Homo sapiens: one gene and its partners. Changing the gene in region 6 together with the main gene of any one other region gives a genetic interaction. Each region holds a gene or a part of one and is shown on either strand. Other genes may lie near its edges. The genes, in order: TRAPPC13, MAN2A1, SEC23IP, SEC24B, FUT8, ARFGAP2 and MAN1B1.

Evidence for each region.
Region 1: changes in ARFGAP2 (region 6) and TRAPPC13 together harm fitness more than expected from each alone (negative genetic interaction), as found in Homo sapiens cells (one large-scale study listed by BioGRID).
Region 2: changes in ARFGAP2 (region 6) and MAN2A1 together harm fitness less than expected from each alone (positive genetic interaction), as found in Homo sapiens cells (one large-scale study listed by BioGRID).
Region 3: changes in ARFGAP2 (region 6) and SEC23IP together harm fitness more than expected from each alone (negative genetic interaction), as found in Homo sapiens cells (one large-scale study listed by BioGRID).
Region 4: changes in ARFGAP2 (region 6) and SEC24B together harm fitness more than expected from each alone (negative genetic interaction), as found in Homo sapiens cells (one large-scale study listed by BioGRID).
Region 5: changes in ARFGAP2 (region 6) and FUT8 together harm fitness less than expected from each alone (positive genetic interaction), as found in Homo sapiens cells (one large-scale study listed by BioGRID).
Region 7: changes in ARFGAP2 (region 6) and MAN1B1 together harm fitness less than expected from each alone (positive genetic interaction), as found in Homo sapiens cells (one large-scale study listed by BioGRID).

The regions. Positions count from the first base shown.
Region 1 is NC_000005.10:65,635,027-65,638,526, forward strand, and holds part of TRAPPC13 (trafficking protein particle complex subunit 13), read left to right. Parts: intron 1-274; coding exon 275-343; intron 344-917; coding exon 918-1,017; intron 1,018-2,669; coding exon 2,670-2,754; intron 2,755-3,500.
Region 2 is NC_000005.10:109,864,427-109,867,926, forward strand, and holds part of MAN2A1 (alpha-mannosidase 2), read left to right. Parts: intron 1-609; coding exon 610-720; intron 721-2,419; coding exon 2,420-2,572; 3' UTR 2,573-3,500. UniProt on the Homo sapiens protein: Catalyzes the first committed step in the biosynthesis of complex N-glycans. It controls conversion of high mannose to complex N-glycans; the final hydrolytic step in the N-glycan maturation pathway.
Region 3 is NC_000010.11:119,906,230-119,909,729, forward strand, and holds part of SEC23IP (SEC23-interacting protein), read left to right. Parts: intron 1-2,811; coding exon 2,812-2,901; intron 2,902-3,500. UniProt on the Homo sapiens protein: Plays a role in the organization of endoplasmic reticulum exit sites. Specifically binds to phosphatidylinositol 3-phosphate (PI(3)P), phosphatidylinositol 4-phosphate (PI(4)P) and phosphatidylinositol 5-phosphate (PI(5)P).
Region 4 is NC_000004.12:109,436,815-109,440,314, forward strand, and holds part of SEC24B (protein transport protein Sec24B), read left to right. Parts: intron 1-3,500. UniProt on the Homo sapiens protein: Component of the coat protein complex II (COPII) which promotes the formation of transport vesicles from the endoplasmic reticulum (ER).
Region 5 is NC_000014.9:65,720,230-65,723,729, forward strand, and holds part of FUT8 (alpha-(1,6)-fucosyltransferase), read left to right. Parts: intron 1-1,545; coding exon 1,546-1,792; intron 1,793-3,500. UniProt on the Homo sapiens protein: Catalyzes the addition of fucose in alpha 1-6 linkage to the first GlcNAc residue, next to the peptide chains in N-glycans.
Region 6 is NC_000011.10:47,166,880-47,170,379, reverse strand, and holds part of ARFGAP2 (ADP-ribosylation factor GTPase-activating protein 2), read left to right. Parts: intron 1-2,128; coding exon 2,129-2,257; intron 2,258-2,336; coding exon 2,337-2,471; intron 2,472-3,493; coding exon 3,494-3,500.
Region 7 is NC_000009.12:137,089,985-137,093,484, forward strand, and holds part of MAN1B1 (endoplasmic reticulum mannosyl-oligosaccharide 1,2-alpha-mannosidase), read left to right. Parts: intron 1-3,500. UniProt on the Homo sapiens protein: Involved in glycoprotein quality control targeting of misfolded glycoproteins for degradation.

The DNA of each region.
Region 1 (3,500 bases), on a different chromosome or scaffold from region 6:
TTTCCAGTTTTTCTATAATGAATGCATATTGTATTTACATTTAATTTTTATAATTCATAGGTTGTAAATAAATGGTGCTTATTTTGTAACATTACAATTCTTAATAAATCACTGATGTGTGATAACCTTAGGAAGTATGTAGTATTATATTTAGGAAGTATTTAGGTTATATTTTATGTTAGTATAAAATGGATGAATGTCATACACTAGACTTGAGAATATTAACCCTAAGCAGTATTAATGTTTTGTTTTCTTTTACTTTTTTACTTCACAGTGATGCGGCTGACTAAGCCTACTTTATTCACCAATATCCCAGTAACATGTGAAGAGAAAGACTTACCTGGTATGGCACATGCTTTCCTCTATTTGCACCTAGGGAAAGGTTGAAACCTGAATTGCCTGCATTACCTTGGACTAAGCCTAGCCCTGTAAATTTTATGCTAACCATTTGCTGGATTCTTTGTTGCCTATTTTTGTATCATGTGAAAGGTGGCCATCTGAGTAACAGGCCTTACTTATACTCTACAAGTCCAAATTATGTTGATATCCTATGGCAGTATGAGACAGTTTAAGATACATTCATATTCATAATACTATTAAAATTGCCTTTATCCTCAAATGTTGCATCAATGTATGTATTAGCATTCCCTTTTTTTTTTAAGAATTATTGGGGCTTTCTCTAGTATATTTTCTATCTCATGACGTACATTTTTCTTTGTTTCTAAAGTTTCCATTCCCTGTGAGATCAGAATTTTTTTGACATGCTTTGTTGTATTAAAATCTAGAAGTTAGACTTTTTAAATATCATCTTTGTCAAGAGGTTGTTTTTTAAAATATCTCTCCCAGCTATTTCTTTATATAAGTAAAAGTTATTTAAAGGGTAGATGTTAGAATTTTATGTTTTTCTCTTCATTCAGGAGATCTCTTTAACCAGCTGATGAGAGATGATCCTTCAACCGTTAATGGTGCAGAAGTTTTAATGTTGGGAGAAATGCTGACTTTACCACAGAATTTTGGGTAAGAATGACATATTCACATAAGAAACCTTGTAAAGCCATTACAAATTATGTTTTCAAAACAGAACCATGGGATGGGGAAATGCTCATGATACATTTACCTTTTTTTTTTTTTTTCTGAGATGGAGTCTCGCTCTATTGCCCAGGCTGGAGTACAGTGGTGCCATTTGAGCTCAGTGCAACCTCCACCTCCTGGGTTCAAGCAATTCTCGTGCCTCAGCCTTCCGAGTAGCTGGGATTACAGGCGTGCGCACCGCTCTGGCTAATTTTTGTGTTTTTATTGGAGACCGTGTTTTGCTATGTTAGCCAGGCTGACCTTGAACTCCTGACATCAGGTGATCCACCCGCCTCAGCCTCCCAAAGTGCTTGGATTGCAGGCATGAGCCACCACGCCTAGGACATGATACATTTGAGGGGCAAAAATATTATTAAAAAATCATACTATGTGATTATGGCTTTCTGTTATTAAAAAAAAAAGATATATACCAAAATAAAATGTTAATAGTGGTTCCTAGCATAATAGAATTTTAACTTTCTTCTTTAGATCTTACTATATTTTGTAATGGCCACATAGTCTTTTAACTACTAATGTAAACATCTTTTTCAGAAGCCAGTCTTTGTTTTTTTGCATCATAGTCCTCTCCCAAAATGAGTTATCAGACTTGTCAGCTAATTAGGAACTCTAAATTTATTTCTTCTGTTATCCTTAGCTGTATTATTATTCTAGATTAATAATAAGGTAGAAGCCCCTGGTTCCACTCTGTTTGCAACAGACAGAATTTGAGACAAAAAGAAATTTTACAGATTGTTTTTATAGTTTTACAGAATGTGGTCATTGACTAGTGTCTTGAAAAACTGGGAAATATATTCATGTAAAAAGTATAAAACTAAAATAAAACCACTGGTGATTTTTATTCAAGTAACCTAGGAAATAAAATAAATTGGTAAAAATACCCCAATATCAGTAACTTAGATCTCTTCTAGATTCAGGGAATAAGTTATTTCAAGAATGGAAACTTGGCTCTCTCTAACCTATTCAGATACAAATCCTAAGACTTTAGCATAGGTCTAATTTCAATGAGTCTTATCTCTAGTGAGGTTGGCATTTTGTACAGTAGTCAAAGGCCAAGATATATCATGTTCTATAGATTACGTCTGTATTTTGAATTGCACTAGGTAATGAATGAGTGGCCTAGTGTGAACAAAGGAATGTTGAAGCAGTATTTCACCAGATTTCTATCCTTCAGTAAATGTTTCTCCATTTGAAGTTCTTAGTGATTCTCAAACAGATTATTTAATGTAAAACCTGATGGGCACAGTGGCTCACGCCTGTAATCCCAGCACTTTGAGAGACTGAGGCGGGCGGATCATGAGATCAGGAGATCGAGACCATCATGGCTAACATGGTGAAACCCCGTCTCTACTAAAAATACAAAAAATTAGCTAGGCGTGGTGGTGGGTGCCTGTAGTCTCAGCTACTCGGGAGGCTGAGGCAGGAGAATGGGGTGAACATGGGAGGCGGAGTTTGCAGTGAGCCTAGATCGTGCCACTGCACTCCAGCCTGGGTGACAGAGCGAGACTCTGTCTCAAAAAAAAAAAAAAAGAAAAAAAACCTGAATGGATTTCTGCCTAAATACTTATTTTATTTTACAGGAATATATTTTTGGGAGAGACCTTTTCCAGTTATATCAGCGTTCATAATGATAGCAATCAAGTTGTAAAAGACATATTAGTAAAAGTAAGTAACATTCTTACTTGGGATGTATTTTAGTCTTTAACAAAGGTTTTTTTTTAGGCCGGGCATGGTGGCTCATGCCTGTAATCCTAGCACTTTAGGAGGCTGAAGCAGGTGGATCACCTGAGGTCAGGAGTTCAAGACCAGCCTGGCCAACATGGTGAAACCCCATCTCTACTAAAAATACAAAAATTAGCCAGGTGTGGTGGTGCACACCTGTAGTCCCAGCTACTCGGGAGGCTAAGGCAGGAGAGGCTAAGGCTTGAACCCGGGAGGTGAAGGTTGCAGTGAGCCAAGATCACGCCACTGCACTCCAGCCTGGGTGACAGAGTTAGACTCCATCTCAAAAAAAAAAAAAAGAAAAAAAGGTTTTTTTATATCTATTATGTTTTTGGCACTTCATTAAATGCACGTTTGATACAATAATTTTTAATTGTCATTAACAAGCACTAATGAATGCCTACAGTTATAAAGTATTATGTTAGGCATGAAAACATTTTTCCTATTCCACAAGATTTGTGATTGCTTGGGTGAGAAAATGTACTAGTCAAAGCTAAATAGCAGTTTAGTATTTGTTAATGTATGTCATTAACATGGAAGATGAAAGATCACTGGAGATTATGTCAATCTGGAAGGTTTCTTGGGGGAGAGGGAATGCGAAGAGGATCTTGAAAGAATGGGAGGATACAGATAACAAGGCAAGGGAGACATGGTAATCAGAGGCAGAGACATAGTGGTACACATGTGTT
Region 2 (3,500 bases), on a different chromosome or scaffold from region 6:
CAATAGCTTCTGCAGTATCAATTTAAATGATACATCAAGCTGGTAAATGTGAGCTGGCCTACCAAGTGAAAGCATAACTAAATTTAAATAGCTCTGATATAAAAATAATGAATCAGTACATCAAAGATTAAGAATGCAGTTAGCAAAAATTAATGTTCAATAAAGAAGCATGTGTGACTTTTAAGTTAGATGGTATGTCATTCAATGACCAGATAAGGACTAAGTTCAGGTGCAGTTTATTCAACTGATGTGTGTGTTTGAAAAATAAGACGAAAACATAATGCTTTATTTGAATAAACTTTAATAAAACAATATATAATGTATGGACATAAGGAAACCTAAGTCCTCGGGGATTATAGGGGAAACCAAGGCATGAGGTTACCTAACAAGGAACCTTAGAACATAATCTTACCTGGCTCAGTACAAGTAGGAGAGAATGGTAGCAGGTGAATGGGCAGTGAGCATGGACCTGAGGAGAAATGAATTTGCCTAACTTTCTTGCTAAATAAATGTGCTTTTGGATGCTGACATCGAGAGAGTGGTGTGTGAAGTACCATAAATATTTGCTTTATTGTCTGCGCGGTGTGACTGCATTCTGCTCATTTGCAGGTGGGCAATGGGCACTCCAATGAGGCAGCCTTGATCCTCCACAGAAAAGGGTTTGATTGTCGGTTCTCTAGCAAAGGCACAGGGCTGTTTTGTTCTACTACTCAGGGAAAGGTAAGTTGAAAAGGTTATTTTTGCTTACTGTTAGTGTGCTTTGAAATCCTCTTTCTGCAAAGGATCTTGACAATAAGATCATGTTTCATTGCTTCTTTACTGTCTCAGTTTCATCAGTCTGCAAATTAGTTTGAATCTCCCCATCTGAAAAATGCACTTTCTCAAAACTTCAGCCTCCTTTCCTTGTTGACATCAAAAGGCATAGCTGGAATTTATGCACATTTGAAGGCAATGCTCTTGTTATTTCCTAGGCCTTCTATTTCCAGCCTACAAAGTGCCTTGCTCCCAGTCCCCCAGTTTTCTCCTCCCCTGAACCACACATGCTCACATATCATCTAGTTCAGCATTGGTAAACCTAAGTCCTACAGAGGCCAAGGCAAGTTTATAATAACTGAAGCTTATAGAGGTAGCCATAAAGAAGCAACTGGGAAAATTGAGACTGTAGGCTAGTGGGATAATCCACCCACAGCCCAGGAGGCAGCTGTACGTAGCGCCAATCAGTTGTTTTCCCTTGGGAAATAAATGTAGGTCTTGGTCTTCTGATTAATGCAGATTTGCATATGAGTCAACACACCGTGCAGGCCAAACAGATCCTCAGTCTGAACACAGCTTGCTGGCTGCCTATTGTTTATTTCTCTTCAAGTTGGTCTTTCTGGCAGTTCCATCAAGCCTGTCCTTGAAAGGAAACAAACCTCCAATCTCCTGCCTCTGTCACTGAAAGGGCCATGACTCAGAGAAGGCAGCTGGGCTGATTTAGGTACACAGGCAGGTCTGCCTCACCAGGCAGCTCAGCTGACCCAGCTTTCCTCCAAAACCTCATAAATAATGCTGTAGACCAGACTCAAGTGATTCAGTTCCAACCCTACAAATTAGCATGTGTGTGGGGTCCAAAAAGATAAGAAAAATGTGGTAGGAGCCCTGAACCTACTTAGATAGATTAGCTTCTACATTTCTTTTACCCTACCCTGCTTGGAGCTGGTGCCAAGAAAGCACTGATATTTTTATTACTTTTTTATTATACTGTATTTGCACTCTATTGTATTGTTGATGATCTAAGTTTACTTGGTTCTGAGCATTCTGACATTAAGGCCTTGAGTCATAAGGGGGTTATACGATCCAGAGAGACAGATAACATGGCAGCGGTGAGGGAAATACTTTCCAAATGACCTGTCCACCTCTATAGACTGGGACTCAATGACATAATGATCCCTCCTTGTAGTGAGCCTGTGTGCTCTCTCTTAACTCTGTTGGAACAGGAAAAAGTGGTTGAGGACTACCATTGTTAGGGGTAAGTATTGACTAAAAGAGAATGAGGATGTTTTTAAAGCTTCTTGGCCATTGGAGGTCCTTTCTTTTATTGAAAAAGCCCCTGTGCATGATAAAATTCTCAAGCAATACAAAAAGGAATGCAGAATATGTTGCTCATGACCATTACTGGTTTCCTGTTCCCTTCCAAGCGTAGTCTGTATGTTCAAGCATGTATATATGTATATTTAATTCACCCTTTTTTCTGTAAAAGAGAACTTATATATGTATATTTAATAACATATATGTATATTTAATCCACCCTTTTTTCCTCAAAAGAGAACTTCAACATACTGTTTTATTCCTTCTCATACTAATTTTCACAGAATATGTAGTTGTGCTGCTAATCTTCAAAGTTGATCTAAATATGTAAATTTTATCATTTACTTTTCAGATATTGGTACAGAAACTTTTAAACAAGTTTATTGTCGAAAGTCTCACACCTTCATCACTATCCTTGATGCATTCACCTCCCGGCACTCAGAATATAAGTGAGATCAACTTGAGTCCAATGGAAATCAGCACATTCCGAATCCAGTTGAGGTGAACCTGACTTTCACATTTGGATTGAGAATCATTGGCTTTTATACCTTTCTTGGTTTGACGTGCAATAAAGAAGCACATTATTTTAGCTTCTGGCTACTGTGAGAACATGAATTCTGTGATTCTGTGGGTTTTTTCTTTTTTCTTTTACCAGTACAGTAAGAAAAAAAAAAAAAAAAAAAAAGCCATGCTATCAATCAAGATTCTTTTTTTTTAAACTTTCTCCCATGAACTACCACCATCAGTATGAATTGATGCAACAAATGAAGAAATATTTAAAGACAGCCTCTCAACAGATTGTATCTCAGGTTAAATGCTAACTAATTATGTCTGTGTTGGGGGTTGCGAAGAGATTCTTAAAAGTATCTGTGTGTTGATCATCAGTTTTACAAAAACACCTATTTGGCTGAAATGGAATAAAATGTTTGTGGGTAAAAGCTAATGGCCAAAATGGTTGCAATCATTCATACTAGTTAGAAAAATTATGTGTTGAAATAAGTGGAAAAGTGCAATCCATCCACCCTTATGATTAACGTAGATGATTTTTATACCTTTTTCTGATGTACCTCTTGACCTTCTCCTTCCCTTCCTACCCTTTCTAAGTATTTCCAGAAATACCTGATTTTGAATCATTCAACAGTAGAAAAAGAGGCATATTTTCATTACTTGACAATGTGGGATGGGTGCAATTTATTCCATCTTCACTAAAATAGAAGCAATTCCATAGGTACCATAAACCTATTTTAGGTACCACAAGGTGTCTTTTTACACAGCTCATTTGAATACAGGTGTTCTGAGAAGGGGTTTCTATTTTAAAATTACCATATCAAAATAAATGTGCCTTATTTTTTTATAAGTCTTGTTAAATCAGTGTCCATATTACTGTTTGGGGAAGGGGGAATGTTGTGGGGTCTGGGAGAGGGTGGGTACTT
Region 3 (3,500 bases), on a different chromosome or scaffold from region 6:
TGTGATCGTGTCACAGCACTTTAGCCTGGGCAACAGAGCAAGACCTTGTCTCAGAAAAAAAAAAAAAAAAAAGAAACGGAGCTAAACATTATGTTCATGTAGGCACTATCATAAAAGATGTCAATTCTTCCCAAATTATCAGATAAATTTTAGGCAATCCCAATCAAAATTCACATCAGGGTTTTTTTTTTTTTTTGGTAAAATTTGCAAGCTGCTTCTAAATTTTTTGTGGAAGATCAAAATGTCAAGGATAACCAAGACCATTTCGACAATGAAATGTGAAATCTTTACCAGATAATACTTACTATAAAGCTGTGGATTGAAAGGGAATATGAAGAAGTGAAAATAATTTATTTATTTATTTTTTAAACAGGATCTCACTGTCCCCCAGGGTGGAGTGCAGTGGCGTGATTTCAGCTCACTGTAACCTCAGCCTCCTGGGTTCAAGCGATTCTCCTGCCTCAGCCTTCCGAGTTGCTGGGATTACAGGCGCCTGTCACCATGCCCAGCTAATTTTTGTATTTTTAGTAGAGACAGGGTTTCACCATGTTGGCCAGGATGGTCTCGAATTCCTGACCTCAGGTGGTCCACCCACCTCGGCCTCCCAGAGTGCTAGGATTACATGCGTGAGCCACCACACGTGGCCTGAAAATAATTTTTAAGGTGGTGAAAGTTTTCTTTCTTTAATCCTTGTTGTTTGTGGCCTTGCTTTTAGAAATTATGAATTATATTTGAAGTTTTTTTTTTTTTTAAATCGAAGAGGAGGGTCAGAAGTACAAAAGACTAGGCTGGGCATGGTGACTCACGCCTGTAATCCCAGCACTTTGGAGGCCGAGGCGGGCTGATTGCTTGAGATTAGGATTTCGAGACCAGTCTGGCCAACGTGGTAAAACCCTGTCTCTACTAAAAATACAAAATTAGCCAGGTATGGTTATGCACGCCTGTAATCCCAGCTACTCAGGAGGCTGAGGCAGGAGTATCTCTTGAACCTGGGAGGCGGAGGTTGCGGTGAGCTGAGATCACGCCATTGCACTCCAACCTGGGTGACAGAGTGAGACTCCATCTCAAAAAAAAAAAGTACGGAAGACTGATGAAGAGGAATTGTTACTGTTACTCAATGATTGTCCAAGAAACAGAAGGAAATACTTCTATTTTCACGTGATTGTCAAATACTCACTGTTACTAGTTTTAAAAAAAAGACTTTGTAACAATTTTTACTTGTCAATTAAAAAAATAAATGAACAAAAAAAAGGACTTGTGGATATGCCAGAGGCTCCCTCTTACTTTGTGTTGAATCTCTCCCCAAGAGGTCCTCACGCTTGTTCTTTATAGAAACTAGAATAGTACGATCGGCCCTCCGTATCCACAGGTTCCGTATCTGCAGATTCAACCAAATACTCTGAAAATATTTAGAAAACCACAACAATAAAAATAACACAGGCTGGGCACCGTAGCTCACGCCTGTAATCCCAGCACTTTGGGAGGCTGAGGTGGACGGATCATCTGAGGTCAGGAGTTCGAGACCAGCGTGGCCAATATGGTGATACCTTGTCTCTACTAAAAATAGAAAAATTAGCCAGATGTAGTGGCTCATTGCCTGTAGTGCCAGTTACTCGGGAGGCTGAGGCAGGAGAATCGCCTGAACCTGGGAGGCGGAGGTTGCGGTGAGCAGAGATTGCACCACTGTACTCCAGACTGGGCAACAGAGCAAGACTCTGTCTCAAGAAAATAAAAAATAAAAATTACAGTTTAACTATTGATATCACATCTACATTTCATGAGGTATTATAAGTAATCTAGAGAAGATTTAAAGTATAAGGGAGGATGTATGTAGGTTTTATGCAAAAATAATGCTATTTTATATAAAGGACTTGAACACCAGGGATTTTGGTATCTTTGAGGGGTCTTGGATCCAGTGCCCTGCAGAAACCAAAGAAAGACTATATCTGGAGGAAGAGTAAGAAGATGGTTGGACAGTGAAGATTTTGGAGTCAGAAAGTCCTGGGTGATATTACTCCAGCCCACATGAAAAAAAAGAAAAAGTCAGTCCTGGGTGGCAATGAACTACAGTTCTCCCATTGCTGCTTCCCAGTTGTGTCATCTTGTGCAACTGTATACAGTACTTAAAATGTCTATTATGGGTTGAATTGTGTCTCCCCATCCCCCAAATATGTTGAATTACTAATCCCCAGTGTCTCAGAATGTGACCTTATTTGGAAATAGGGTCATTGCAGATGTAATTAGTTAAGGTGAGGTTTTACTGGAATAGGATGGGCCCCAAAGCCAATATAACTTGTGATGTGAAGACAGACACACAGAAAGAATCCCATATGATGATGGAGGCAAAGGCTGGAGTTACACTGCAAGCCAAGGAAAGCCAGAGATTGCCAGCCACCACCAGAAGCTAGGAAGAGGGAAGGAGGATTTCTTTATAGCTTTCAGAGGAACGGTGGCCTGCCTTCCTGGCACCTAATTTTCTACTTGGAGCCTCCAGAACTATGGGATGATACATTTTTTTTCTAAGTCACTCTGTTTGTGATACTTTGTTAATGCAGCCCTAGGAAATGAACAGACCATCTAAAACTTGGTTTTCTTCATTATATAATGGGGATCCTGTTACTTAGGCGTGATTGAGAGTAATTACTTCAATGGTATGTGTAAGGTGATAAAAAATATGTTAACCAGTCAGGAAATGAGAACTGCTATTACTGTTATTTTTATCACCATTATAGTGACCGTTTTCCTCCATACTTTCTCTCCATGTGGTATAAATTTGTCATGTTGGAATATATGTTGTTTCCCCCATTATAGGCTGAATATAAAAAAGCTGTAACCACTAATCAGTGGCACCGAAGATTAGAGTTTCCAAGTGGAGAGACAATTGTTATGCACAATCCAAAGGTAATGATGGTGTTCAAAATTTTAAGGTATTAAGTTCATTTTAATATTTTTCTGTGTATGTTTGATAAATTGTTCATTTTTAGTAACTTCTACAGTGGGAATGTTTTTGTAACAAGTGCATTGCTTTTAAAATACTTTATTATTATAGTGGATAATACAGATATTATTTCTATGATTCACACTGATCATAGAAACAAAAACACAAATTTTTCGTAGGGCGAGGTGCACACCTGTGAGAGGCTGAGACAGGTGGAATGCTTGAGCCAGGGGGACAGCAGAACCCTGTCTCTATAAAAAATAGAAAAATTAGCTGGGTGTAGTGGCACATGCCTGTAGTCCCAGCTACTCAAGAGGCTGAGGTGGGAGGATTACTTGAGCCCGAGAGGTTGAGGCTGCAGTGAGTCAGGATTGCTCCCCGCTGCACTCTAGTAGCCTGGGTGACAGAGCAAGACCTCGTCTCAAAATAAAAAGTAAATTTTTCTCAGGCTGGGTGTGGTGGCTCACACCTGTAATCCCAGCGCTTTGGGAAGCCAAAGTGGGAAGATTGCTTTAGGCTAGGAGTTTGAGACCAGCCTGGGAAACAAAGAGACTCTGTCTCT
Region 4 (3,500 bases), on a different chromosome or scaffold from region 6:
TGGGTTGCTGAACATGTGGAGATGCTGGGAGGGTGGCGGCACCTGCCCCCATCCTTTGCCCTGTACATCTCTTTCATTTGGCTGTTCATCTGTATCCTTTGTAATATCCTTTATAATAAACAATAAATTTAAATGTTTTCCTGACTTCCACAAGCCCTTCTACCAAAGTAATTGAACCTAAGGAGGGGGTAGTAGAAACTCCAGTTTGTAACTGGTTCCTCAGAAGTACAGATGGCAACCTGCTACTTGTGATACTTATGATAGGCATCTGAAGTGGGGAGCCATCTTGTGGGACTGAACCCTTAATCTGTGGGATCCGAGTCTAACTTCAGGTAGGTAGTGTCAGAATTGAATTGAGTTGGAGGACCCCCAGTTGGTGTCTGTTGGGGAAAAATAAAAACAAAAATTCACACATCTGGTCACAGAAGTGGTCTGTGCAGAATGAGAGTAGAGTGAAAGAAGTTTTTTGTTTTTTATTGTTTGTTTTAGAGACAGGGTGTCACTCTGCCACCCAGGCTGGAGTCAGTGACTCCATCATAGCTAACTGCAGCCTCAACCTCCTGGGCTCAAGTGATCCTCCTGCCTCAGCTTCCCAAGTAGCTAGGACTATAGGCATGCACTACCACTCCTGGCTAATTATTTTTATTTTTATTTTTGTAGAGACTGAGTCTCACCATGTTGCCCAGGCTGTTCTCTAACTCCTGGCCTCAAGTGATCGTCCTGGCTAGACCTACCAAAGTCTTGCGATTATAGGTGTGAGCCACTGGGCTGGGCCCTGTTTTTTCTTTTACAAGTGGTTAGCAAATGGCAAACTTTTTTTGTTTGTTTGAGACGGAGTCTCGCTGTGTCGCCCAGGCTGGAGTGCAGTGGCACGATCTCAGCTCACTGCAACCTCCACCTCCTGGGTTCAAGCGATTCTCCTGCCTCAGCCTGCTGAGTAGCTGGGCCTACAGGCGCACACCACCACTCCTGGGTAATTTTTGTATTTTTAGTAGAGATGGAGTTTCACCATGTTGGCCAGGATGGTCTCCATCTCCTGACCTTGTGATCCACCTGCCTCGGCCTCCCAGAGTGCTCGGATTACAGACGTGAGCCACCGTGCCTGGCCCACAAACGTTTTTTAAGATTTGTTTTTCCAAAGGATATTGTATATAGATCCCTGATAGAGAAATCAGAAAAAAGCAAAGTGGTTGCGGTTAAAATAGAAGTAGAAGTTCAGTTGTTTTTAAGCACAGTTTGAAAAACACATAGTTTGGATCCCTACCTTTACAGATGAAATGAAGATTCAGAAAGGTTAAGTAGGTACATTTTCTACCAATTCTGTGAAAGCTTTGTGAGGGTGGCAGTTTTTTCTGTCTCTTGTTCACGTTGTATAATAAGAGCCTAGAACAGTATAGGCAAGTTACAGGTATTCATTAGACATGTATTAAATGAAGTCCATTTTATTTTTGCTAATTCCAACTCTAGATCTCTTCTTAAAACTTTTTGTCTGTTTGTTTATTTATTTATTTATTTTAGAGACAGAATCTCACTCTGTCACCCAAGCTGGAGTACAGTGTTGCCATCATAGCTCACTGCAGCCTTGAACTCCTGGGCTCAAGCAGTCTTCCCACCATGGCTTCCTGAGTAGCTGGGACTATAGGTGTGTGACACCATACCCAGCTAACTTTTAAAAAAAAATTTGTAGAGACTGATCTCAAACTCCTGGCTTCAAGTGATCCTCCCATCTAGACTTCCCAAAGTGCTGGGATTACAGGCATGAGCCACCATGCCCAGCCTAAAGATCTCTTTCTGTTAACAGACTCTAAGAAAATTCTTTTTAGAAACTTTGATGTTTGAGAAGAAAGGAATAGAGAGGCAGAAAACCTAGTCTTCATGATCACTTTTACTTGTTTTCTAGGTGTAACTGCTAGCATGTTTCCTCCACTTATTCGAAGATACAGCTTGACTTGATTTCAAGTCTGTGAAATCTTTCTCTTAAGCTTCCTTCCTTGGTGTTGTATTTCTATCCTTCATTTTTCATTGAGCAATATATGGATTTTTAAAACTATTTGTATTTCCATACCAAGCATTAATTGAATATTTCTTACCTTTTACTCTGCCTTTTGGGATTCCTTCCAAAGCTGAGTCCTCAAACGTAGGAAGACTGACTAAAGTAATAGCCTGGTAATGAACTTGTTGGGAGGTGAGGGGATGGGGCAGTCAGATTTAATAATAAGCTGCTGCTTTTTAATTTTACTTTTAGGAAGCAAATGGTGTTCATTTTCAAATGAAAGTATATTTTAATCCTTCCATATGCCCTTTTCCAGAATGAAACTACAGTTTTATCACTTTAATTGTTAATAATGCAAGAAAGATGAGATAGTAATGGGAATTACTAGAACTCACTATGGAAGATGTAAATAAACATACCATTCATACAGCAGTACTATCGGGTCAGTCACTGGAAACCCTTAAACTTTGAGGGCACATGCAGCATTTAAAATGATATAAATCTCCCTAGTGTATCTCAAATAAGTTCCTTTTGATCAGAGCCACATCAGTGTCTCAGGTTTCTAGTCTCCATTTATAGCTAACCGGAAGCATCAGGTCCTCTCATGAATATACCCCTGTGGTATTAAAGTGACTGTGTCTGAATACATAATTTCCTCCTAAGCTGATTTTTTTTTTTTTTTTTTTTTTTTTTTTTTTTTTTTTTTTTTTTTGAGACTGAGTTTCAGTCTTGTTGACCAGGCTGGAATACAATGGCACAATCTCAGCTCACTGCAACCTCCGCCTCCCGGGTTCAAGCGATTCTCCTGCTCAGCCTCCCGAGTAGCTGGGATTACAGGCATGCGCCACCATGCCTGGCTAATTTTGTATTTTTAGTAGAGACAGGGTTTCACTATATTGATCAGGCTGGTCTTGAACTGCTGACCTCAGATGATCCACCCGCCTTAGCCTCCCAAAGTGCTGGGATTACAGGCGTGAGCCACTGAGCCTGGCTCTAAGCTGATTGATAGATATCTCAAAGATCTTAAAGTAGGCCGAGCATGGTGGCTTACGCCTGTAATCCAAGCACTTTGGGAGGCTGAGGCGGGCGGATCACTTGAGGTCAGGAGTTTGAGACCAGCCTGGACGACAGGATGAAACCCGTCTCTACTAAAAATACAAAAATTAGCCAGGCGTGGTGGCAGGTGCCTGTAATCCCAGCTACTCGGGAGGCTGAGGCAGGAGAATCACTTGAACCTGGGAGGTGGAGGTCGTGGTGAGCCAAGATTGTGCCATTGCACTCCAGCCTGGGGGACAAGAGCGAGACTTCGTCGCAAAAAAAAAAAAAAGATCTTAAAGTATTCACTCCATATGTAAACAAGGGTCTTATATCTGGGTTTAATTTTTATTTTTTATTGCTATATATATTGCTTTAGTTGTTTGCAGTGTCTTTTCACTCCCTTCCTCTCCCCCCAAGTTTCTGGGATTGTAGCAGTAATTAATTTTGTAAACCATATTCATTGCCACCA
Region 5 (3,500 bases), on a different chromosome or scaffold from region 6:
TCCCTATGGCCACCACCACTACAAGCCCACAGGGATTATTGCCAGGCTACGGTTCATGTTCACTTAAGGCCCAAGGGCTCTTCAGTCAGCTTGTGGTGAATGTTGCCAGGCCTGGGACTTGCCCTTCAGGGCACTGGGCTCCCTTCTGGCCCAGGCAGGTCCAGGAGTGCCATACAAGAGCCAAGGTCTGGAATCAGGAACCCCAAGAGCCCACTTGGTGCTCTGTTCCACTGTGGCTGAGCTGTTATCCAAGTTGCAAGATAAAGTCCTCTTTACTCTTCCCTCTCTACTGCTCAAGTGGAAGGAAGGAGTCTCTTTTGGAGCTGTGAACTGCACTGCCTTAGATTAGGGAAAGGGTGGCATAAGCACTGCCTTAGCCACCTCAGCTGGTGGCTCACTAGGTTACGTGCCCCCTAGGTCCAATGACTCTCGAACCCAGCACAGCACTAAAACTTGCCTAGAAATTACAGTTCTTGTGGCCTAGACTGCCTTTCAAGTTCATTTAGGGCCCCAGGACACTTCAGCCTATAGTGGTGCGGCTTGTTGAAACTCAGGCTCCAACCGCTGGGATGGACATTTCCCCTCTGGCTAGGGCACATCTAAGTTCTCCCTCCATGGGCATTGGCTGAGTTCTTTGCTAATGGCCCGGGTGTTGCTTGCCAGTTGGCCTGGTGTTGCTTTCTGCTGTGACATGGTAACACTGAGTTCCAGTGCAAAGTCCCACAATCACTGTGCTCCCCCTCCCCCAAGCACACAGATTCTTTGCACCACACGGCCACTGCATGGGGGTGGAAGGGGTAGTAGACAATCGAAAACTGTCTTTCCTACTCTCTTCAGTGTCTCTTTCAGCAATATGAAGTTAAAATCAGGTACTGTGATCACTTACCTGATTTTTGGTTCTTGTGAAGGTGCTTTTTTGTGTAGATAGTTGTTAAATTTGGTGTTCCTGTGGTGGGGGCAGCGATTGGTTGAGGCTTCTATTCAGCCATCTTGCTTCATCTCCCTCCAATAGATTAAAAAAAAAAAAGATTTTAGAATTATCTAATTTTTTTCTTTAAAAGATGTAGATGATTGGCTTATAATTATAATCTTCAGGTGTTTCCAGAGTCATTGTGTTCTGTCATGAAAGTAATGCAAGAGCAATTTTGCTGTAATGAAAAGCTAGAAGTTTCGAGAACACTTTATTTTCTAATTCCAAAACAACAACAAAAAATAGAACTTTGCTAGCTGGCTGTGTCTACTGTCATTCTTTGATTAGATACTTTGAGTTCTGCATACCATGAGGTGTTGGTATGATAGCATGTTATGATAGAAACTTTTAGAAAAGACCAGAGACTTGAGAGATAGACTAACCTGCATGTGAAATTCACCTCCGTCACTTTTGCTCTGGTATTTCGAGCAAGTTATTTAACTTCCTTTGTAAAGTGAAGATTATACTTCTTTAGAGTTGCTGTGAGGATGAAAGCACTCAGAATAAGTTCTTGTTGAATGGTGGATGTATAAGGAATACCATGTGGTAATGATTATATGTTTCAATATTGTCAGGTGAAGTGAAGGACAAAAATGTTCAAGTGGTCGAGCTTCCCATTGTAGACAGTCTTCATCCCCGTCCTCCATATTTACCCTTGGCTGTACCAGAAGACCTCGCAGATCGACTTGTACGAGTGCATGGTGACCCTGCAGTGTGGTGGGTGTCTCAGTTTGTCAAATACTTGATCCGCCCACAGCCTTGGCTAGAAAAAGAAATAGAAGAAGCCACCAAGAAGCTTGGCTTCAAACATCCAGTTATTGGGTAAGAATCTGATTTTTTCCCTCAAACTGTGATATGTAGTAGTTAGGGTTATGTATCTTTACAATATATTGTGAATTTTACAATATGTAGTTCAATTTTTATAGTCCCACCAAAGGACAGAGGTTCTAGAGCTATCCTAAGGTCACATGGAGACTATTTTTTTTTGTTTGTTTACTTAGAACAGCTAAGAAAGTTGCTTAGTAGTGCTCTATTACTGTCTCCAGTTCTCCTCTTCCTTTGCTTCTTTCTCCTCTTATCACAGCTCTCTTTTGGCTTTTGTTGTTGTTATTTTTGAGATAGGGTCTCACTCTGTCACCCAGGCTGAAGTGTAGTGGCTCACTGCAGCCTCAACCACCCTGGGCTCAAGTGATCCTCCTACCTCAGCCTCCCAAGTATAATAGCTGGGTCTAAAGGCATGTATCACCATGTCCAGCTTCTTTTTATTTTTATTTTCATATTTCCCACCCCACATCTTTCCTTGTGTCTTAGTCTTCATATGTAGAGGAGTTATTGACCCCATTCTAAGTGTTAGACGTAAAGAAGGTACATGTGAAGTCAGAATATCAAATCGTATTTCTTCTCATGTAACTTTTGATTGAAATTCAATGGAATCATTCGTTCTGCCCACTTCATCTCTATAGAGCCCACTGAACAATTCCAATTTCCCCAGAAAAAGAGTGATTATGAAGGATGTGGGAAGGAAAGATGATAGAATAGATGTTCATATGATTGTATCCACATCTGGGTTATAGTCTGGAATGCAAAGCAAAGAATAGCCGTGAAGATGGCAGAGTAACTCTGGTGAAATCAAACCTTCACTCCAGATTCATAATAAAAAACTGGCCTTAAGTTTGGCCCATATACTGTGACCTAAAGGCGTATAAGTCTACCTTTTTCTACATATAAATAGTGATTTAGTAATTTGGGGGGAGGGGAAGGCAAGATTTAAGGAGGGTGTTTTAATTTATGAAAATAAACTGTTATTTTTATTTCCATTAATATTGCTTTGGGGCCAGGCATAGTGGCTCATGCCTGTAATCACAACACTGGGAGGCTGAGGCAAGTGGATCACTTGAGCCCAGAAGTTTGAGAAAACTCAACATAGGCAACATGGTTGAAACCCCATCAATTAAAAAAAAAAAAAAAAGCAAAAATTAGCCAGGCTTGGTGACACATGCCTGTAGTACCAGCTGTTCGGGAGGCTGAGGTGAGAGGATCACTTGAGCCTGGGAGGCAGAGATTGGAGTGAACCATAATCACGCCACTGCACTCCAATGTGTGCAACAGAGCAAGACCTTGTCTTAAAAAAAAAAAAATTACTTTGGAAACACTAAGATGGGAGGAGAGAGGAGAAAACTGTGGAAGTCAGTGCCTTATTCAGTACAGGGAAGTGTGAATCTGTGTCCCCAATTTTACAATTTTGGGGCTTTTCTTAAATATGACAGGTGAAATTAATATCTGCTGTCATTTGATATGGTGAAAAACAGAGAAAGGAAATGCATTATGCCCACAACAGAAGGGCTGGAATCGGTTTCATTTACCTAAAATAGTAAAAACCGTTAAAAGGTTTGCTGGTCTTAACGGTGCTGTAAAAGTTTATCCAGGTCTATGTTTTCCTGGGACAACTTTTAAGTTCTACAAGCTGGCAGTTATGGTGACTCTCCAGGGTAAAATAAAGAGGAAAACCCTTGGTATCAGAACTTTACAA
Region 6 (3,500 bases):
GCCACGGTGCCCGGCTTTCTTTTTTCTTTTCTTTTCTTTTTTTTTTTTTTTTTTTTGAGATGGAGTCTTGCTCTGTCACCCAGGCTGGAGTTCAGTGGTGTGATCTCAGCCCACTGCAGCCTCCGCCTCCCAGATTCAAGCAATTCTCCTGCCTCAGCCTCCTGAGAAGCTGTGATTACAGGCATGTGCCACCATGCCCAGCTTATTTTTGTATTTTAGTAGAGATGGGGTTTCACCATGTTGCCCAGGCTGGTGTAAAACTACTAGCTTCAAATGATCTGCCCGCCTCGGCCTCCCACAGTACTGGGATTACCGGTGTGAGCCACGGCGCCCAGTGCTTGGATTACGGGCGTGAGCCACATCCAGCCAGAGCATAACATTTTAACTTGAAAGGACATTGGGTCTCCCTCCTTTCCCTGCTTCAGTCACATAGGAATGACTGGGTTAATAGATGACTGGGTTAAGGGATGACCAAGGGGTTAAGGCATATGAACAGTTTTTTAGCAGTGCAACAATTGTTTACTTAAACCCAACTCACCCTATTTATTTATTTGAGACAGAGTTTCAATCTCGTTGCCTAGGCTGGAGTGCAATGGTGTGATCTCAGCTCACCACAACCTCCGCCTCCGGGGTTCAAGCTATTCTCTTGCCTCAGCCTCCACACCTGGCTAATTTTGTATTTTTAGTAGAGACAGGGTTTCTCCGTCTTGGTCAGGCTGGTCTCGAACTCCCGACCTCAGGTGATCCGGCTGCCTCGGCCTCCCAAAGTGCTGGGATTACAGGTGTGAGCCACCATGCCCGGCCCAACTCAGCCCTATTGCAAAATAATCACTCCTTGGGGTTCTTCTAGCTAAAAGCTATAGATATTTTTTAATGAATTGATTTAAATCAAATTAGTCCTTAAAGTGTCCTTGTGGAGCCTGACAGAGGAATGAGAGGCATCAAGAGTTGTATTGTATTGCCTGCCAACCCTAGACCCCTTTTCTTTGAGAAACGAGACAGCAATTCTAGGTCTTAGTGCATAAGGCCAGTCTTTGTGCTTTGAGGTGCTTTTTTTTTTCTCTCTGAGACGGAGCCTCGCTCTGTTGCCCAGACTGGAGTGCAGTGGTGCGATCTCGGCTCACTGCAAGCTCCGCCCCCCAAGTTCACGTCATTCTCCTGCCTCAGCCTCCCAAGTAGCTGGGACTACAGGCACCTGCCACCATGCCCGGCTAATTTTTTTGTATTTTTAGTAGAGACGGGGTTTCACCATGTTAGCCAGGATGGTCTCGATCTCCTGACCTCGTGATCTGCCCGCCTCGGCCTCCCAAAGTGCTGGAATTACAGGTGTGAGCCACGGTGCCTGGCTTTTTTTTTTTTTAATAAAGAGTAGGATGATGAAGAACTCATTCTTTGATGCAGTTATGTTCATTTCCCTGGTGCTGGGGCATTTCTTCATCCATTCCTTTGCTTTGTGAACCCCATCAGTGAAGGATGGGGTTCATAGTGCACAAGGTAGGGAGTTGTTCAGGACAGAGACCACTGGCATCTGGTGCACAATATTAAAATTACAACACGAGCCAGGCACAGTGGCTCACGCCTATAATCCTGGCACTTTTGGAGGCCAAGGCGGGTGGATTGTCTGTACTCAGGAGTTTGAGACCAGGCTGGGCAATGTGGCGAAACCCTGTCTCTACTGAAAAAACACAAAAAATCAGCTGGGTGTGGTGACGTGCACTGTAGTCCCAGCTGCTCGGGAGGCTGAGGCACAAGAATCGCTTGAACCTGGGAGGTGGTGGTTGCAGTGAGCCAAGATTGCACCACTGGACTCCAGCCTGGGCGACAGAGTGAGAATCTGTCTCAAATAAATAAATAAAATTAAATTATAACAGGCAAACCGTCACTGGCCAGGGAACTCCTACGTGGAATAAACAAAGCTGATGTGTAAAGAATTCTGAGGTGTGCTTCACAGGTCACCACACACAGCTAGCCTTCTGTTGGGGTCTGGCCCAGCCCTGTGCTTGGGTAAGGACAGAAGGCTCTGGGTGACGCTCCGTGAAGGAGAACCCAGTTGCTGGGCATTGTCTCTTGTGCGGTGATGCTGATGCCTATCCTTTGGTCTCATGCCTGGCTCTGCTTTGCTGCGCAGCTCTGTCTCCCACTCCGTGCTGTCTGAGATGCAGGTGATTGAGCAGGAAACCCCAGTGAGTGCAAAATCCTCTCGCTCGCAGCTGGACTTGTTTGACGATGTTGGTACTTTCGCCTCTGGACCCCCAAAGTAAGGCTGTTTTCTAGCTGTAAACTTGGCTGCTGTGTTCCTCATCAGGCTTCTCTGAGCCACTCTACTGTCTCCCTAGGTACAAGGACAATCCCTTTTCCTTAGGGGAAAGCTTTGGCTCCCGCTGGGATACAGATGCTGCCTGGGGTATGGACAGGGTAGAGGAGAAGGAGCCAGAAGTGACCATCTCAAGCATCCGGCCTATTTCAGAAAGGTAGAGTGGGCTGTTTTTTCTTTTTTCTTTCTTTTTTTTTTTTAAACAAGCTGAAGGTAGAGAATTCTAAGGCAGCACTGTCTAGAAGAACTTTCTGTGTTGATGGGAATGTTCTCTGTGTTGTTTAATATGGTAGCCACTACTATGTGGCTATGAGCCCTTAAAATGTGGTTGGTGCAACTGAGCAACAATTTCTGATGTAGTTTAATTTCTGATAAACGTAAATAGCCACCAGTGGCTGGTGCCTGCCTCATTAGACAGGGCAGCAGTCAGGCTTCGGTTTGAGTTGTGCTTTGTCATCATAGAGGGCCTGGCAGCTTCTTTTGCTTGGGGTCCATTTCTCTGGCCGGAGGAGCCTGATTGTATGCTTCAGTCCTGACCTCCTTTCAGGGGTTTTATGTCTCCAGCCCCCTTCTTATTTTTTAAAACCCTACTCCATCTTAATCTGGGATCTGTTTAGTTGACATAATATCTGTGAGTTATCCCCGTATAAAATGGGAACGTAACTACTTCATAGGGTCTCCGGAAATACCTGGCCCAGTGTCCACATACTCAGCGTGAGATGAGAGCAACCATCTCCCTTTCCACACCAGGATGCTTTTGAGAGTAAAGGGGGCAGTTTGCTATTCATAGTTATGACAAGAGTAGGTATAAAGCCAGGCAGACCGACACATATGCTCATTGTAGTACTAGGCAAGTTGTCACTAGGATTAGGGTAGCAGCAGTTGTGTGGCCTCCTGAATGCTGACGAAGCTGTGTGCTTTTGGGCAGGAGCCTAGGCCACTGCAGGCTGTATTTCCACCCTGCCTAGTGCAGGTTCCTAAGCTCTCTGGGCCTTGGCCTCAATGTGGAGAAGGGTGACTCCTCACCAGGGGAGAGGGGCCCAGAGCCACAGAGCCACAGACAGAATGGGACCTGGTAACCCATCACCAAAAGGCCACTGGTGCTCTGTTTGGCCTCTGTACTCTGCCTCCCCTGATGATAATGGGAGGAGTCCGAGATATTCCACATCTTCCCCTCAGAGCCACA
Region 7 (3,500 bases), on a different chromosome or scaffold from region 6:
TTGTGTCCTCTGGAAACGTTGGAAGAAGGGGCCAGGCCTAGTCCTGGGCACCACCAGGCTGAGAAGATTGGGGTCAGGGAGGAGGGCAGGGGGAGTGGAGACTGGGGATGGGTCAGGAGGCAGCTGGAGAACCAGGAAAACGTCCTGTCAGTGAAGGTTTGGTTCAGGAAGAACAGCCAAATCCCCGACACCGTTGAGAACACCAGGGTGGTGCTGACTCTGGTGTGGCTGCTCGGAACCCTTAGAAGGCCCTTAGGGTGTTAGTTACTGTTGTTGGTACATCTGTGATTGTGTCTAGCAGGTGTGGGAGTGCCTTGGGAGCTTCACCTGTGGCCAGAGTCCTCAGCGCCAGGTGGACTTCCCTGCAGGGCTGTGACAGGGACAGACAGCGCTTTCTAACAGTGGCCTTGGGAGTGGTAACCTGCCGAGGAACAGCTCCTGGGCTGGGGAGCTGGAGGCAGGCTGCTGCCCACTGGCTAAGGATCTCAGCAAGAGGGGCATTGGGGCATTGGCCCCCATGAGCTTGGGCCACCCTCAGACTGCCGTGGGGGTGTTTTGATTTTTTTTTTTTTCGAGGCGGAATCTCACTCTGTCGCCCAGGCTGGAGTGCAGTGGTGTGATCTCAGCTCACTGCAACCTCCGCCTCCCGGGTTCAAGTGATTCTCCTGCCTCAGCTTCCCGAGTAGCTGGGATTACAGGCGCCCGACACCACGCACAGCTAACGTTTGTATTTTTAATAGAGACGTGTTTCACTATGTTGGTCAGGCTGGTCTCGAACTCCTGACCTCTTGATCTGCCCACCTCAGCCCCCCAAAGTGCTGGGATTACAGACATGAGCCACCATGCCCGGCCCTTTGATTTCTTTAACAAGAAAATGTGTCCTTTTAAAATTTCTATAAGCTCAATAGAGAGGGGATGGACAGTACCAAAAAGCAGAAGGAAGCAAACCCACATTCTCCTTTCAAAGGCAGCATTCCTGTCGCTGAGCAGCTTCTCCAAGGGTGGTCTAGCCGGGCAGAGGGTGTAGGGTGGGAATTGGCCCCTAGAAGGTGCCGTGCCTGATGGGAGAGTCCTGCTCTTGATTGGCCATGGGGCCACTGCTCCACACTCTTCGGTGTGAGGATTTCTGCCTTTGACCAAGGTCTTTGTCTACAAATTGAATTTTCCTGACTGGAAAGCCGACAGGTGCTTCCTTTCCTTCTTTGGTCCTTCGTCTCCTTTGCATATGGAGTATCGTAACTGCCTGAGAGCAGACTGTGGTATTTTTTCCATTGAAAGATGTGTTTCCACCACTCACAAGTGACCCATAAGCCAGCACCTAGTGTCCAGGAGCAGCTGGGGTGGTGGATGGTGAATATTTCTGTCTTTCTCAAGCATTGACTTGGAGACATCCTGCCCTCCAGGGATCACTTGCACTGCCTCTCCTGTTCAGACCCTGGCACTTGTCTAGACCTGGTTAGGGATGAGGCTGTGTTTAGGCCAGATCCCTTTCTGTTAACGTTTTACTTTGGTTGAGTTCAAATTTTTTTGTTTTATATTTTTTTTTTTTTTTTTTTTTTTGAGACAGAGTCTTCCTCTGTTTCCCAGGCTGCAGTGCAGTAGCGCAATCTCAGGTCACTGCAAGCTCCACCTCCCGGGTTCATGCCATTCTCCTGCCTTGGCCTCCTGAGTAGCTAGGACTACAGGTGCCCGCCACCACGCCCGGCTAATTTTTTGTATTTTTAGTAGAGACGGGGTTTCACCGTGTTAGCCAGGATGGTCTTGATCACCTGACCTCGTGATCTGCCCGCCTCAGCCTCCCAAAGTGCTGGGATTACAGGCGTGAGCCACCACGCCCGGCCTTAAAATTATTTAATAGAGATGAGGTCTCACTATGTTGCCCAGACTGGTCTCCAACTCCTGAGCTGAAGTGATCCTCCTGCCTCAGTCTCCTGAAATGCTGGGATCACAGGCATAAGACACCACACCTGTCTGATTTCAAATGTTATAGGGGCTTAGGAGAGAAAATGGGAACATTGAGAAGGTATAAAGGGGAATACACAGCCACACATTACCCCTGTTCCCAGTCCAACTCTTGAAACACTTGGTATATGTCTTTCAATTTATGTGGCTGGGTATGGTGGCTCACACCTGTAATCCCAGCACTTTCAGAGGCCAAGGCAGGCAGATTGCTTACGCCCAGTCTGGGTAACACGGTGAGACCACCATCTCTACCAAAAAAAAAAAAAATTAGCCAGGCACGACATGCCTATAGTCCCAGCTACCTGGGAGGCTGAGGTGGGAGGATCGCTTAAGCCAGGGAGGTTGAGGCTACAGTGAGCTATGATCCAGCCTGGATGACAGGGAGACCCTGTCTCAAAAAATAATAATAATAATTTTATTTGGATAAACACATGTATACATCATTGAGGGTTAGGGGCTGGATTGGTATTTGGATACACACGTGTGTACGTAATTGAGGGTTAGGGGCTGGATTGGTCCCTGTTTCTTTTTTTATGCACATGAGAATATTCCCTTTCATACAGATTTTTATAGCTCTTCTCCATTGCTTGGATAAACCATCATTTTCTAAATCATTTATCTGTTGATTCTTTCTTCATTTGTAAATGTCCCCATTACATCCGTTGTACGTAAACTATTAAGAGTTAAAGGTTGTGAAGATTTTGATGTCCTATGACGTGTATCATGACAAACTATTCCCGAATTTGCTTCCCCTGCTACGGTGCTGAGAGTAGCAGTCAGTGGTGCCATGGCAGCACTGGGCATTCTCGTGTCGGCAATGTTTCCAATGCAACAGTCAGAAACTGGCGCCTGCTTTTCGTGGATGCTTGTGTGTCTTGCCTAGAAGCAGGGACACTTACAGGAGGGGAGAGGTGATGAACGGCCCTATGTGCTCCCATCCCGGAAGCTGTCCGTGTCCTTTGATGAGTCTTAGGACTTTTATATTTTCCTTTATTATTGGTATTCCCTTTATTATTAGTATGACTGTTGTGAGTTAGAATATTTCATCCTTTACCAAGTATGCTTCTTATGACTTCATCCGGCTTAGAAATTAGTTTTAGAGAACTTTGCTATATAGTAGCAGTAATCAATTAGAAAATGTTATTGAAAAGAGATCTCAGGAGGTTGCAGTGGCTCACACCTGTAGTCCCAGCACTTTGGGAGGCCGAGGCAGGCGGATCACTTGAGGTTTGAGGTCAGGAGTTTGAGACCAGCCTGGCCAACATGGTGAAACCCCATCTCTACTAAAAATACACAAATTAGCCAGGCGTGGTGGTGCGCACCTGTAATCCCAGCTACTCAGCAGGCTGAGGCCTGAACTGGGAGGTGGAGGCTGCAGCAAGCGGAGTTCGCACCACTGCATTCCAGCCTGGGTGATAGTGAGACTCAGTCTCGAAAAAGAAAAGAAAAGTGATCTCCATCACAATCACAAGAAAAGAATGCCACCAAGTCCGTAGGAGTAATCCTGATACTAAAATATATAAAGTCAGTATAAATAA